Linked DNA regions of Homo sapiens: region 1 is linked to region 2. Evidence: fine-mapped expression QTL. Tissue or cell type: whole blood. Region 2 holds a variant in brackets; the other region holds the start of a gene. All regions are shown on one strand. Distances are from middle to middle.

Region 1 (2,687 bases), 50 kb after region 2:
ATTTTGTAAGTGATCTTCTTTTGGCTTTGGTTTAATTTTTTTTTTCTTTTTTTTGAGACACGGTCTTGCTTTTGCCCAGGCTGGAGTGGTGCAGTGGTGCAACCTCGACCTCCCACAGGCACGTGCCACACGCCCAGCCTTTTTTTTTTTTTTTTTGCAGTTTTTGTAGAGACGGAGTCTCCCTATATTGCCCAGGCTGGTCTTGAACTTCTGGACTCAAGCGATCCTCCTGCCTCAGCCTCCCAAAGTGCTGGGATTACAGGCATGAGCCACTGCGCCCGGCTCAGTTTAATTCTTGGGAGCACCTCTACCTTTTGTTTCTTAAAAACCCCAAATACAGACTATGAAGGATAGTTCCTAAGTATATAATGTAATTAACAGGCCATATAATCTCTCTGACCTTTTAAATATTGTATTACCCCAGGGCTCAGTGATTGGACCTCTTCTCTTTCCTATCTGCTTTCTTGATGATCTCCTTTGGCCCTGTGGCTTTCAATACTATCCACACACAGATGATTGTAACATTTATATTCTCCAGGTCAGACTTTTTCCCTGAGTCTCACAGATCCAACTACCTGCTTGACATCTCTTCTTAGTTGTCTAATGGACATCTCAATCCTAATTTGTCTAAATCTTTGCTCATGCTTTCAGTGCAACTCTCCCTCCATCCCCCCAACACACACATACTCACACATTTACCTCTACTCTTCTGGCAGCCTTCTCATCTCAATAAATGGCAACTCTGTTCTTCCAGTTGCTCAGGCCAACAACACTAAAGTCATTCTTGGTTCTTCTTTAATCACACCTCACATCAAATCTGCCAGGAAATTGTCTTGGATATTTCTGGAATCATACTTTTCATTACTCCACTGCTACCACCCTGGTCTATCATCTCTCACCCTTGCCGTCGTCTCTCACCTAGATTATTGCAGCAGCCTCCTAATTGGCCCCCTCCAGTCTACGCTCGAAAAGGAGCCAGAATTGTTAAATCCTAAGTGAGACCATGTCATGTCTTTGCTTAAAACTCTCCAGTGGGTTCCCGTCTCACCTAGAGTAAAAGCCAAACTCCTCATAATGGCCTACAAGGCTGTATACCTAACCCCTACGAGCTTTCTGACGCCATCTTGTACTACTCTCCCACCACTGACATCACTCTAACCCCACGGGCCTTCTTCCTGCAATTCCCTGACCACACAGGTCCGCCCTCTCTCTCTGCAGAGAGCTCTCTGCTGGCTGCTCTATTAGTCTTTCTTTCCTTAGACTGTTTCCTTGCTCATTTCCAGTCTTTAACTCAAATGGAGACTACACTGAGCTCCGCTTTCAAGGCAACCTCCCATTGCCTTCACCACCACCCTCTGCATCTTACCTCCTGTTTCATTTTTTCTCCTTAGCACTTACCAACACTGAACACTCCATATTCCACCTGTCTCTGTCTTCCCTTTCCTCCCTGTCCTGCCCCTTGGCAGAGGGGGAGGGTTTTACCTGTTATGTTCACTGCTGTATCTTCTGCCCCTATGATGCCTTACACGTAGCTGGAACTCAGTATTTGTTTAACAAATGAATCATACATTTAGTTAAGGTTAATGGGTGGGAGGAGTTATATAACAGATTGGAAAAATAAGAACAGACTTGTAACTGTCTTTATTTCCTGCTTTAGAAATTACTATCTTCATTTAATATTTTTCTGATTACATCTATCTACTAATCATTTCAATTAGCTCCTTCACTGAAACACAGCATTGTAATCTGTACCAAGAAAATAACACACTAGTTCTACATCTTGGCATTTAACTTCAATAAGTAAATATACTATTTTAAGTATGTAACACTTAAACATTTTCTAGAGCTCTTTCCATTTTCATTTATCTAGAAAATGTTTTCAAATGGACTGTTAAAATTCAGCTAAGAACTGATGTTGGGTCATTACGCTGGAGCTAATTAGCATTGCTTGCCTGGAGCTGCTGGTCCCCCTTCCTGCTTCCACCTTTCCTTTTTTCTGAGGTGGTTGAAAGGTCAAACCCCTGGTGAGAGGAGAGAACCAAAGCCCCACTGCGTGCCTCAGATGCAGAGTTTCACAGCGTGGTATTCACTGGGTATTCACCGACATTTCTCTAGGCCCCTTCACCTGAAGGAACTGGCCTGCTCCAATCAGTGACTTGCAGTGTGTGTGTCAGGGGCAAGGATAGAGTGAGGAAAAATGTGAAATAACAAATCACTGCCGCTCCTTGAGAATTACAGGAGCATCACCTGGCAGGATTTTTGTATCCTTATTTTCAGTATTAAACCACATACATGCACCCCACTGCCTGCATGCCTGTCCATGCCTGTCCCACTGTGGTGTTTCACAGCATTTTTTACATCATGGCAGATAGAGAAAATTAGTTGTTTGGAATTCTGGAGGCGACCAGCCTGGGAGCTCCAGCCACCTTAAGTGCTGCCCAGCTAGACACCCAGAAGGCTTCGATCAATAGCTTGAGACAAACTACTTGAGAAGCTCTGCATTAGAGAAGCAAATTCAAGTCTTGACATTTTCTCAGGGGAGTGCTCTGAAAGTGACTATATAAGCTTCTACCGACCTCAAGCAAATCACAGGCATTAGATACATTAAATTGCTGAAGTGATAGCTCTGGCTTTTTGGATATGCACAATCAAATATAGTTTTCTGTTTTATAATTTGTCAACTCCCC
Region 2 (2,687 bases):
TGGGGATTGGGATTTCAACATACAAATTTATCAGGGGACAGAAACATTCAGACGATAGCACCTTGTGTCATCATTTTCCTAATTTTAGTCATAAGAGAATTAAAACTCAGAGAGGTTAAGTGACTTTCCTATAGTCACACAGCTAATTAGTTTGACAGCCAAGATTCCAGCAGCCTTAATATCTTTTTCCAGTGCTATCTATTTGTCAAAACCCTATCTAGTTTTCAACACTCTGGGAACATTCCACCTGCTCCATTAAGCCTTTGCCAGTCCTTCTATGTGGAATAAAATCTTCATTTTTCCGTTCACCAATAGCACTGTGTCTGAACCATTTTTAGAGGTGTTACAACATCATCTTACTTAGATGGAGTTTCTGTTTACTATATTTTTGTCTCCTTGAGGGCAGGCATCATGCCTTCTTCATCTTCACACTCCCACCACTGGAACTGAGCAGAGTGCCTTGTATATTATAGTACCCAATAAATGTTGATGAGCTTGAACCTCTAGGGATTACTTAGGGAGATTTGCACCACCAGGATTCATCTGTTTGGAAAATGGCTAGTTGGTTACCCTGTGACCCAGTGTTTGACTCTTCGGGTTTTGTAGGAGTCCGTATCAGTACAGTCAGACATTCCTTTTCAAGTGCTGCAAACATATGCTGTTCACAAAGCTCACTGGAGGATCTCACATCTGAAATAACCTCCCTCAGCTGTGGGGCCACACCCGGGGTTTGGCTGCCTTGAAGTGGGAGGCGTAAGGCAAATAATAGTGTTTAAGTCATTTGTTTTGTGTGGTTTCTATGTTTATTGGGATTCACTTGACCAGCCAATGTGGAATATTATATGTATAACATACATTATAATGACTATTGTTTATCTCCTTATGTGCAGCTACGGAGGACTTTGAAGGGATGTGAAAAAAGTGCTTAGATACTGTTTCAGGGGCATCCAGGACAAAGCCATGATTAATATCAAAGCATCATGCCCTCTACAAGGGCGTCCTGAGGAGGACGGCAAGTAGAGCACACCTGGCCTCCACACACCAGGCCATGTGCCCATGGGTGGTATCCTTCCAACGGGGTGCCTTTTTCTCATTCATACAGAGGCACTGAAGGGTCTGGTGGAAGGGCCCTATGACCACTCCATCTGATGAAGCTTTCCCCTAATTGCCAATGGTTCCTAAAGTTTAGTCCTTGGTCCACGTGC[A/G]TCGGAATTCCCTGAGTCACTTACATCAAGAGATCCCTGGACCTTCTTGATGAAAACCTCTTAGGGAGACCAGGAATTTGTATTTTCAGCAAGTCCCCTTGGATGATTCCAATGCATAGTCAGACCTGTGGATGCAGGTGTGTTGGCCATCTCTTACCCAGTTTTTTGTACTGCTATTTGGCCCTTTGTGCATTTTAGACTTGCCTCCCTATTGAGAGCATAACTCCTGGAGGGTGGATATTCCACCATGTAGTACATAGCCACTGAGCACCTCACATGAAACAGGGTGTCAAGGAATGCATAAACTACGAGGGGCCCAATTCCTCAACAACAGGAGTTCATGCAACATGTAGATGTCCATTTGATAAATACTGCTTGAACACTTACTATGGGCTGGTGCTGTGCCAGGGACTGAGGAGACATAGCTCTACCCACATGGTTTCTACCGTCTGGGCTACAGACAAATAAACGGGCAATTACAATAGATTGTGGCAGCGTAGAAAGGAGAAGGGATGAGTGATGGGAGCCAGGGGAGAAGCAGCTTAGGCTTCGGAGGCCAGAGGTGCTCAGAGAATGCATCATGGGGAATCCTGGGAGTGAAAGGGTAGAAATCGTCATCTGGGCAGAAGAAACATGAGCGACAGCCTAGAGGTCAAAGAGAACTTCATTTGTTAAGGGAGGCTGGAGAGTAGGTTTTAAGGAGGGGATAAGGTTGGAGAGATAAACAGAAGCCAGCTCATGAAGGGCCTTGCATGCCACGGTAGGTAGAGTGGAGGTGGCCTTGGCATTAAGTGCAAATGTCCCTCCAGCACAGCAGACCTTTTATGTAGGAGCAAGTTTGGAACCAATGTCCTACAGCTTGAAGATTCCTGGCTCATCTGCTCAGGGTTAAAGGAAGAACATTGCTTTCCCCAGGAGGACTTCCAGACTGGCAATCGCCTCTCTCTGTTATGTCAGTCATGTTCCTTCCATCCCTCAGTGCTTGTGGGGGGTTAGGGGGCAGAATATTAATGTACAGGCTTGGCTAGGAAACAGTCCCCTGCATAGGGTAAGGAAGATATATTGCAGATTTAAGGGAATTGTTCAGTCTAGGAATTGGAAGAGCTGAGGAATGCAGTCTTGGCCCAGGACCAAGAATACCAGGTGCTGAAACAATAGGGAAATTTAGATTAGGCTCTGCATGAGAAGACATTACTAAATCAATGTTAAATATTATGGTGATGTGGAAGATTACCTTTATTCTTAGGAGATAGTTGCTGAAGTATTTAGGGGAAAATTGTCATGATATCTGCAACTGACACACACATACCCCCCCATATATATACACACATAGACACATATATCTATTAATATATCTATATACATGCACACATATATACATATATATATGAAAGCAAATGTGACAAAATGTTAACAATTGGTTAACTGAAATAGAAGGCACCTCTATAGATGTGTGTGCTAGAATACCTGTATGTGCTATTC

What was found. PIP is the estimated chance that this variant, and not a neighbour inherited with it, causes the effect.
Region 1: it holds the start of FAM177B, and the variant in region 2 is fine-mapped to the expression of FAM177B in whole blood (TOPMed, PIP above 0.99).

Annotation. Positions count from the first base shown.
Region 1 is chr1:222,736,034-222,738,720 of GRCh38, reverse strand. FAM177B (family with sequence similarity 177 member B) reads right to left here and starts at 1,519. Exons shown (of 6, transcript NM_001394345.1): 1 at 1,399-1,519; 2 at 700-817. RefSeq lists an enhancer at 1,736-2,277.
Region 2 is chr1:222,785,930-222,788,616 of GRCh38, reverse strand. No RefSeq gene overlaps it. Among named protein-coding and RNA genes, the nearest start is that of DISP1, 28 kb to the left of the region's middle. The variant A/G (reference allele first, on the strand shown) is at 1,206.